Linked DNA regions of Homo sapiens: region 1 is reported to be linked to region 2. Evidence: microRNA targets listed by miRTarBase, many of them from high-throughput screens and not tested one by one. Region 2 holds a microRNA gene; the other region holds the end of a gene's coding sequence.

What was found. The annotated mature microRNA hsa-miR-2110 reads UUGGGGAAACGGCCGCUGAGUG and lies in region 2 at 3,248-3,269, opposite strand. An mRNA with a match to its seed (bases 2 to 7 or 8) in the 3' UTR can be bound and repressed. Matches are read on the target gene's strand: a 7mer-m8 pairs with bases 2 to 8, a 7mer-A1 pairs with bases 2 to 7 and ends in A, and an 8mer does both.
Region 1: the mRNA of HLX is a reported target of hsa-miR-2110. The part of its 3' UTR that is shown has no 7-base or 8-base seed match.

Annotation. Positions count from the first base shown.
Region 1 is chr1:220,884,101-220,889,474 of GRCh38, forward strand. It overlaps HLX (H2.0 like homeobox), which reads left to right. Exons shown (of 4, transcript NM_021958.4): 4 at 95-959. The coding sequence ends at 604. Among named protein-coding and RNA genes, the nearest start is that of HLX-AS1, 6.6 kb to the left of the region's middle.
Region 2 is chr10:114,170,904-114,176,277 of GRCh38, forward strand. It overlaps MIR2110 (microRNA 2110), which reads right to left and starts at 3,276; the gene lies at 3,202-3,276. CCDC186 (coiled-coil domain containing 186) reads right to left here and starts at 3,300. Exons shown (of 16, transcript NM_018017.4): 1 at 3,112-3,300. It also overlaps a transcript of TDRD1 not described here. RefSeq lists enhancers at 2,982-3,510, 3,106-3,305 and a silencer at 3,366-3,635.

The sequences.
Region 1 (5,374 bases), not on the chromosome of region 2:
GGGAGGTGGCTTGAGGGTGCACGCGAGTCGGATAGGAGCAAACCTGGGTCTCATCTCGGTGTCTCTTCTTGTCTCCCGGTGTGGCGCGGCGCAGGTGAAGGTGTGGTTCCAGAACCGGCGGATGAAGTGGCGGCACTCCAAGGAGGCCCAGGCCCAAAAGGACAAGGACAAGGAGGCTGGCGAGAAGCCATCAGGTGGAGCCCCGGCTGCGGATGGCGAGCAGGACGAGAGGAGCCCCAGCCGTTCTGAAGGCGAGGCTGAGAGCGAGAGCAGCGACTCCGAGTCCCTGGACATGGCCCCCAGCGACACGGAGCGGACTGAGGGGAGTGAGCGTTCTCTGCACCAAACAACAGTTATTAAGGCCCCGGTCACTGGCGCCCTCATTACCGCCAGCAGTGCTGGGAGTGGTGGGAGCAGCGGCGGCGGCGGCAATAGTTTCAGCTTCAGCAGCGCCAGCAGTCTTAGTAGCAGCAGCACCAGTGCGGGTTGCGCCAGCAGCCTTGGCGGCGGCGGCGCCTCGGAGCTTCTCCCTGCAACACAGCCCACAGCCAGCAGCGCTCCCAAAAGCCCCGAGCCAGCCCAAGGCGCGCTTGGCTGCTTATAGACTGTACTAGGGCGGAGGGGATCCGGGCCTTGCGTGCAGCCTCCCAACCATGGGCTGGGTTTTGTGCTTACTGTATGTTGGCGACTTGGTAGGGCAGGAGACGCAGCGTGGAGCCTACCTCCCGACATTCACGCTTCGCCCCACGCTGCTCCGACTGGCTGCAGCGGACACTGCCCAAAGCAGAGGGGAGTCTCAGTGTCCTGCTAGCCAGCCGAACACTTCTCTCCGGAAGCAGGCTGGTTCGACTGTGAGGTGTTTGACTAAACTGTTTCTCTGACTCGCCCCAGAGGTCGTGGCTCAAAGGCACTTAGGACGCCTTAAATTTGTAAATAAAATGTTTACTACGGTTTGTAAAGGCCGCTTGGCTTTGCTGGGGGTTGTTAAGGCCAGAGATCTACAACCGGACCTTAGTCCCGGGGACACTGTAGAATGCAGCAGCTGAAGGTGGTGGGGCTGGAGTTTCAGGGGAAGTGGCTCAACCTCAGAGCCATCTTGTTACAGACATCAGAGATGGGCGTCTGGGTTTAGAGGCTTCTAATTAAGAGATTTCTAGCGCCAACTGCCACTGAAAGTGCCCTCTGAGACCCTGAGTAGCCTGAGAGTGGAGCAGGCCATAGAAACTGTTAGGCCAGTGCAACAGATGGTTTCCCCATTCACAGTATGGACGAAATGAGTTCCTAGAGTACTCAGAGTTGGAATGGGGAAGGCAGTGATGCCAGGCGGGGTCAATCTAGGCACAGCTGTAATCACTATGTGGACGCGAAGCGCGGGCCCAGAGCCCTGCACAAACTTTTCCTTGTTCCGGGATGGGGTAGAGGACAGGTTTGCAATGTTGCTGAGGAAAGGACAGACATGACACAGTGGTTAGAGCTGGAAGCTTGGGTCTTAGAGTGCCAGGGCCCTGGTTGTAAACATGCCAAACAAAGAGGTGACTTCTTCAAGGTGAAGCAGAGGCACAGCCCAGATCAGAACTTGGACTTCCTGGCCTACATGTGGCCACGGATAGAACTATGAAGTTGCATCCTCCATTCCCTCATCCACGCAAAAATTTTCCTTTGCAATTTGGCCACTGGAGGTGCCTAGATGAGCTCTTTCTCCCCAAAGCTGCTGAGAGTCGTGAGGCAGTTTCCCCATCCCACTGCAGCTGGAAAATATGTAGTAAACCTTGACACTGCTACTAGGATGGGCAATTCAAAGATTTTTTGTTTGTTTATTTCTTTTAAAGGTGAAAAGTTAAACCTCTCTCCAGGACCTGTCCTCCTGCTTGTAACTGTGAAATGTCTGGAGTTGCTAAAAGCTCTTTGGGGGGATTTTATAGCAAATAGATTTCTTTGGGAAATCCTGATCAGTCTCAGTGCCAATCTCTTCGGCACTGAGCAAGTGAAGGACACAAGGTCTCTGGCAGACCCAGCATCCAGGCGGGGTGGCCAGTTCTCAGAATGAGTTGAGGAGAGGTGCTGAAGTCAGAGAGCCTAGGACACACCTCAGTCCCTTGGCCAGAGTGGGAAAGTTCTCAGCAGTCCTCTGTCTTGCTTATCTCCTCCACTTTTAGACATTCCCCTGGAGCTCATTCCAGGATCTCTGTTCTCGACTTTTCCATCCAGGGGTGAAGTAGAGGCAGCAGATTGAGCCTTCTTACACTTGCATAGCCAGATACAAGATACAGATAACAAGTCCCAAAGCCAACACATGGATGCAAAGATGATCATTTCCTGACCCAGCCAACCCCCTAAGTCCCCAAATCGAGATGATTCAAGAGCAGTGAGAATGGAGTAGGGGCAGAATGATCAGAGATGTACAATTTAGTCAAGAGAAAAGAAAGAGCATACCACAAGGGACCCCATCTTCAATAGGAACATGAACTAGCTGTTATCCCTAATTGTGTCACAAGAGTTTCCAGGCCAGGGCAGCCTCCCCACCTGGCCTGGGTGCGGGCCAGGGCTGGGATAGTTCTTCAAGCCTTCTGTAGGCTCTGCTGCCAAACTTCAGGATTCCCTCTGTACCTCAGTTTTGTCTGCATTATCGATATCAATTTCCCCTGACCCCACATATCGAAATTCTGGAAGCAGGATATCCCAAGCACATCGAATTTTGAGGTGCTTCAATCCAGCTCTGGCGTTAAGGAGAATAACGCGTCGGCACGCACACTTAGCTGAGGAGCGGAGTCTAGGGAAGAAAGGTGGGGAGGATGCTTTATACAAACCGCACTTTCCCCTGCTCCTCACCTGGCCCTGGAGGTTTCCGCTACCGCCAAACCCAGACCGTAGGTCCACGCCCTGGCCCCGGGGCTTTGAACGTGAAGAAAATCATCATCGGGGAATGTCATGATGTGATTTCAGGTAGAATTCTGCCTTATTTAGGCCACCTTTCGCCAGGCCAGGGGGCACGGCAGAGCTGGGGGGCTCAGGGATGAAGTGAGCCGGGGGGGTGAGCGCCTGAGGGCGGGAGTCAGAAGGACGAATACCACCCTAGTGCTCGCAGGAGGCGCCCCTGCTTCCGCCACCCCCACCCCCAGTTCCTAGTCAGTTATCACCTGAAGTTCTTGCGGGGCTTTACCCTAGCAGTGGAGTTCTTCCACATTTCATCAGAATCGGAATATCACAAGCCCCGGAAAAGTTACAGTTCATCTGGAAGAAGGGTAGCCACAGGTGGCCAGGAGGAAAGGCTAAAATTTGGCCGGATAGTCCCATCCCAGGGCTGCTCTCTCGACCCCGGGTACTGGGGTCTTCTTGGCAGCGCAAAATGCTAGCAAAGGCGGCCAAGCAGCTCGAAATTCTTCAACCAAGACCTAGAGTTTTCAGACCCGGAAGAGAAGGCCCAGCGCGGACCGTGCGGGGCGCTAGAACCGCTCAGGGTTGAGGCTTGGAGCAGGAGAGCGCGCGGGCCCCGGAGCAGAGCAGAGCAGAGCAGAACAGAGCCGCGGCCCCCGCCCCTCCTGCACACAACCCGAGACTCCAGCCAGCGATTGCTCTTTGAGCAAAGCTTTGCCTAGCCCGCTGAAGTCCCCGCTGCGCGGAGCCCTCCGAAAAAGGCTACCAAGGTGCACAGAGGCTCACAGAGGGATGGTGACCACGGTGCGTTTCCTTTGGGGCGGGGGTAGGGACTCAATACCCATCACCCATCCCCTCCAACGTGGACGCACACAGACCTGCAGATTCATATAGACACACGAGAGACAGGCAGTATACTGGCTATTTCAGCACTTTGCGGGTAAAACCACGCTAATAAATTTCCCCATTCTCCTCCATATGGCAAAGCAGAGAGGAGCCTCTGCCGCCTTATTCAGCCTGTGTGGGTGGGTAGGGCGCTTGTTTCCACAGAGAATTTGCCTAGCGCCAAGTTCCGCGGACTAAACCACTGAAGGCTGGCGCCGCGTTTCTCTCCCTTTTGCCCGCTTCAGTCGAGAGTGGGCATAGACATCCTTGCGAGCAGTGTGTCTCCCTCGCCTTCCTGTGCCCACCCCCCCGCCCGAGGCCAAAGTCGTCAGCCCCCGGGGCAGGTCCAGGCGAGGTCCTGCTTCCAAGGGAGGCTCAGGTCATTATACCAGCCAGGGAGATTTCCCGCTTCTCTCCCTCTACTCCCTGCAAAGAGTCGTGTGGATTGTAGGCGGGCTCAGACTCTGCTTGCCACAAATCCCTCTGACATCCTTTGCACCTCAGAGGCAACCATAAAGGAACTCCAGTCACTCTGGGATCTTTTCTCTGGCTGCCCTCTCTACCCAGGATCTGGAGTTTGATGTTGGCAGGGGATGAACTAGGTTGTGGCCAGCGCAGGGCAGGCACAGTAAGAGCGCCTAGGCTTCTTTTCAAGGTGTCAGAAGCCGAAGAAACAGGAGAGTGAAACCTGGGTTCTCCTGTCTGGGAAGGCAACCGCCAACGAAAGCTTCGGAGTCAGGAGAGGGGTGTGGTAGAAACCAGGGCTTGTAGCAGTGGATTTTCTGCGGGCACCTGGACTTGACTTGATCTGTTGAGCTTTAACCTGTTGAGCTTTAATCTGTTTCCACAGATCTGAACCCACCTCTGCTCAAGCCCACGCCTACCTGAGACTCTCAGTGGGCTGGATGGAGCACGAAACGGGGGAAGAGAAGTCAGAGGCTGAGGTTGATGCAGTCTCCCATCGTTTTCAGGCATCCTAGTCCCCTCTCCGGCTTCTTCCTCCCTTAAGAAGAAAAAGTAGGCAAGCTCAGCCCTCCCCCACGTGATGTAGTGACACCGCTTTAAAGATGACCAAGAGGACCCTAAACATGCTGGGACATCACATTCTCCTTCTTTAGCCTTGTGAGTTGGAAAGGACTGATTGCACACTCCAATGTATTTGTGAAGATGCGAGTTTTAAGGAGGATTTTAACTACAGGTATTTGGGCTAGGGAAGATTTTTTAAAATCCGAAATTTTGATTTAACTCATGCACTCATCTAGCTCACAGCCTCCATTTTTGAGGTCATGATGAGATTGGCTGGCGTCCCAAAGACAAACTAGTTGGCTTTCTCTGAAGCTTCCCTTCACACACTGGGATATTACAACCCACAGTGCCTACCCTCTGCCAGCCACTCTTGGGGAATCCAGACTGCTTACACAGGGTGGGGAGCACTTTCTAAGATTCCCTTCAACTCAGGTTCTAACAGAGCAGCAGCCTCCACGAGGATCCCTGGGCCCTGAGGACAGGTGAGCTTAGAGAACCCCTGGCCCTTTAATCCCTTCCCTGTCTCTGCCCCCTGTCATTTTAGAAATCAGGAATAGAAGTCTCCACAGTTATGATTGTTCCCAACTTC
Region 2 (5,374 bases):
GATAGGATAACAGGACAAAGAGAAATTATGGTCCATCAAAATTCCATGAAAAAGAGGGTCAGTGGCCACATCATAGTTCACCTTATCAAGTTACACCATATATGTCATATCAGCTCGGTAATTTTACATGTCTCCTATAAATACTTTAAAATACTAAAGCAGAAAGTTATCAGAAATGACTTCCTACTAATACAGAAATCTAATTTGAAGATTGCACTTGCACTTTAATGAGTCTAAGAAAACATGAAAAGTATTATCAGCTAATTTTCCTCCAAATCTGAAAAGGAATAAAGTAGGTAAAAAAAAATCTGACCTATAGTTCCTTTTTCAAAAAGGAAGGCTCTCAGGCCTTCCTTTACAGGTGGCTCACACCTGTAATCCCAGCACTTTGGGAGGCCTAGATGGGAGGATCAAATGAGGCCAGGAATTAAGAGAACAGCCTGGGAAACATAGCAAGACCTGGTCTATAAAAAATAATAATATATAATTTTTAATTAAAAAGATTAGTATGGTGGCCTGTGCCTGTTGTCCTAGCTACTCAGGAGGCTAAGGCAGGAGGATTGCTTGAGACCAGGAGTTCAAGGCTACAGTGAATTATGATCATACCACTATACTCCAGCCTGGGTGACAGATTGAGATCTTGTCTCAAAAAACTAAACAAAATGAAGCCTAGTATCTTTAAAAAAAATTTTTTTTCAAGTTATAAGCCTGCATTACATTAAAAAGTTTGGGTTAATGTTTAAATTTTGAAGACACCTTTGGCCAGAGTTGGTTAATTTGGTATGCTCTACTTTATTAAAAACATGAACTGATAGTCTACCGTGGGATTATGTAGTAAGTGCGGTAGACATTACATAGTCTACATAATCCCACAATTATCAGTTCAAGTGTCTTAATGATAGACAAATGTTAATAAGAAATACACTCACAATCCAATCAAAACTATGCTGGTGCTGATTTCCACTTTGTGTCTACTGTCCCTTCATCTCAGTATTTTTCCTTTTTCTTACTTTTTAGCCCAAATACATTTTTTAAATCTCAGTAGCTAAGAAAGTTCAAAGCAGTTTGAAACAATAGATTAAATTATCTATGATCTCACTGCTGCCCCTAAAATGAATACTAAGTATAACATTTGCAATACTGTAAACTCAGTGATATGTTTATGAGAAATTGAAAAACCAGCTTTAGTTATTTTAAGGTAGAGATAAAAGAAAAACCTAAGTTTTACTAAAAGAAAAAAAATTTCAGGGTAAGGATTCTTACTTTAACACGAAACTGTTGCATGAATTTGAGAAACTAGTGCAGATTACCAGTCCTTCTTCAAAGGGAAAGATTATTTTCTAAATCTCCAAATAAAGCTGCTTTGTGCTTCAACCTACTGTCTCTTCCTGGAGTCAGTATACTGCAATGCTTTTATCTTCACTCTGTGATGTCAGCATAAAGCTGCAAATAGATGTTTCTAAACTGAACATACTAAGCAATCATTAGCTATGCTGTCACTGCATAGCATTAAAGGACAACTCTACTTTATGGGTGAAAGAACTAAAAGGTTAGAGTGGTCACTGTGATACACACCAGCCAACCCTTTCCGTTAGCAATAAATAGGACTCAAAAGCCAATGACACACTATGGAATCTCCACTGTTTAAAGAAACCTTAAGTTTATATGCAGTTATTCTGAATTTAACAGGGCCTTTAAAAAACAAACACAATCCATGCATTTCCAGGGAGAATCTTCAGTAATCATACGTTTGCCTATTATGCTGTAAAAAGTTTTAATTCTTAATACTGCAAGATTCGTGATCTAATATCTTCACTGCATTAAAAATAACATGAAAAGACCAGAAATAAAAGAGAAAAATGAACCTAGCCAATCATTACTGTTTTTTATTTGTGTAATGTTGGATAAAGAATTGAAGTTACACAGGGAACAGTGTACATTACACACAGAGATAGTTCAGTTTCACTATCAATCTCTCTTGAACCTGAATCCTTCCCACGAGATGAACACTCGGTAAATATTAAGGTGTACTTGATAGTTGGGAAAGCCACACCCACAACTAGCATACCTAAATAGATAATAGCAGATTAATTTCTTCTGAATGACTACCAGCACACCTCTTGAAACCCTGATTTACTGAACACCTTAGAAGACAACACCCGGCCTATCGTTTTGGAAGAAAAAAAAGCTGGGCATCAAAGGAACATGACACACATGCAGAGAAAACGGCCAAGTACCTGGGACTGTACTGCGTATTTTTACTATATTCTCTCTTCTGATTTCCACAGGTAACAAGATTATCAAGTGAAAGAAGTAGGATTCTAATCCAGATGTTCTGACTCGAAATCCAGGACTTTTTCCTCTAAACAAAATCAAGATGGGAATATTAGGTGAAGTTGTTAAACTGTTAACAGCTAAGCAATACTCACACCTGCACTGTTTCCCAAGATTGCTACTTAGGGACACGTAGAAGGGTTTTTGTTTTGTTTTTGCCATTTTTCATTACTGATGGAGACATAAATCTGAAACCCCTTCCTTACCAACCAAGGTTTATGAAATGCCTTGACGTCCTTGAAAGACAACATAAAGAACAGTATCCACCACTCCAAAGAATCACTTCTAAGGAACTTAGAATCACAGTAATGGAAGTGTTTGGAAGAGGGTAACAAGTCTTCACAACAGTAAATATAAAACACCCACATACAGTCAACTTGAGACGAAAAACGAAATAGGCGATTGAGTCTAGGAAAGATTCTCGAGCAGGTAGGGCTTGGCTGCAGTTCACACGCAGCCCAGGCAATGGGCTCGAATTCAGACGCTCTCGAGGCACAGCCCCCACGACCCCCGCTGACCCCTCTTTGCCACCTCCAAGGTCCCGGAACCGAAGGAGGAAGGCAGGGAGAGGAAAGGGCTTGAAACCCGTTCCCCAGCCCTCCCCTTCCTCCGCGCCCTCAAAGGAGCCAGGCGGGGAGCCCGCTCGACCTCGACCTCCACCTCGCACTCGCCCTCGCCCCCGCCACGGAACGTGCAGGAAGGAGCGGAAGGCTGGCAGCCCCACCGCACCGCCACCGCGACTCACCGGTGTGCCCCGAGTACCCCTCAGACACTTACCCCACTTATCCAAGCCTCAGGCCACGCCCTAACAAGGCTGCTGGAGCTCTGGCTCAGGGGCCAACTTTTCCATAGCGGGGTCCAACCAGCCAAGAGTGGGAGGAAAAGACCGCGGTGAGAAACACAGCCGACGCCTCACTCAGCGGCCGTTTCCCCAAACCCCTGCGGAGCTGACACATCAACAAAGATGGCGGCGACACTGAAGCCGGCCCGGTTACAGCTGAGGGGGCGGGGGCTCCCTGGAGGAACCAATCAGCGCAGCGCGGGCGGGGTGACGCAGCACACCTTGAGGTCCTGGGTAACCTGTCTGCAGTGGGCTGGGCTGGCGGAGCTCACCTCCCACCTCCCGGCCCAGGAGGCCCCACCTTGCGGCCCGAGAGGCCCCGCCCCGCACTCCGCCTGGCTGGGCACCCACGCCTCCGCGACCTGGAGAGCCGGGTCTCCTGCCCTTTGGTCGGGTTCTTCCTTTCAAGCTCCTCCGGACCCACGCAGCCTGTTTCTTTCTGCAGGACGCTCTTGTTGGCTATTACTCCTCCTCACCCTTTGGCCTGCATGAGTCAGGGACATAAAGCAATAAAAGAGAATTTGAAATTGTGGCTTCCCGGCTCTCATGCGGAAACCTTGCACCTTACGTGGGCGGAGTCGGCTGGAGCAGGCTACGATGGGGGAGACCTCTGGGGGTTCCATAACAGCGCGTTCGTGTCTTCAGCGTGGCGCTGCTGCCATTGTTTAATAATAAACTGTCGGTGCCTTCGTCTCTGGCTTCAAGCTGAGCGCATTGATGGTAGGAAGTGTCCTCTCCCGGCTGAGTAACCTGGCACGCAGCATGGCAACAAAAAGTGTATTGGGTACAGTTGCCTCGCCCGGCCCAGAGAAGGAAGGTCAGCAGTTCAGTCTCTGGAGGTTTCGCAAACCTCCTCAGTCCGGGGAAACGATGTTCTTTGGTTTAGGTCTTACACATATCTCATGAATGAAAATAGCTGATGCAGACGATTCTGCAATGTAAGAATTTGTAAAGCAAAACTTACTACTGTTCTGTTAAGCGTCTTCGATACTGTTGGCAAAACACACACACGGAGGTGTAATGGCACCTCACTCCTCCTTAAATGAAGGTACTACACTGAAGCACATTTTGCAGTTAAAGTGTCTTGTCATAGAAAATAAATGATTTGACTTTAAAACAATAAATCGACCAAGCCTTCCTAGGGAGACATTAATCCAAGGGGAAAAAACTGAAGAAACCTTAAGCTGTTTTCGGTACTCGTCAGTAATAACATAGGTATTACTATTTCTGAATATTTCTGAATTTATAATTAGTATAAAGTATATAAATATATCTTTGTGAACCAAGTTTTTCACCATAAGAGAAAAGAAATACAAATATAAACCAAAGACATTATATTAAAATTCTGCAATCCTATATTTGAATTTACAAATATCAGAATTAACTCATGGTACATTTTTTTCGTGAAAAAAAAGGTGTGTCCACTGAAAACTCTTAGAACAGTGACCAACCCATTGCACACTCCTATTCCCCAGATTGTGATCTCTAAAGAGCATTGCCCAAAAAAAGTTACCTTGGCTTCTCTTGGAGGTTAAGTGCTGATTCCCAGTAGGGGCAAGAAATATGCAAGATAGCCTAGGACATATTGCTTGTAGCAGAAAGCAAGGAAGAAAAGCAAAGATAACATGAACTGTACCCAAAAGACTCAGAAGGCAGTTCAAAGATGCCCCAACTTCTCAAACAGGACAAATTTAGCATTCAAAAATAATAACAGCAACTGGTTGAGACGCACTATGTAAAAAAATCAGTGAGTGCATTTATTTTTTTTAATGTCATTGACCCTCTTGGAAAGATGCCAACAAGTCATTACAATCTGAGAACTGATAAAGAATCAAGCATTCATCCTACCTTTCCTGTTGCAAACTGAATGTCAATCAAATAGTCAATGTGGGGAAGCTCTTCTCTGTAGAACTCCATGTAATAATTGCAGAAAGAAAGATAGATGATCACCATTTTGCAAACCCTGATGAAATAATGGATCTAGGTAATGGTCATCTGTGAATCTAGAACCATTAGATGAAAAACTGATAGGAAGCTTCGTATTGTAATGGATGGATGGGGCTGGCACCACTTGAACCTACTAGATCAATCTTAATATCCTCCAAAGTGAAACAACTACATACTATGTATTTTCTGAAATGCTACAATAGAGAAGCACAACACCACCTGTGAAGTATTCCTGCCGGGGGATGCAATCAA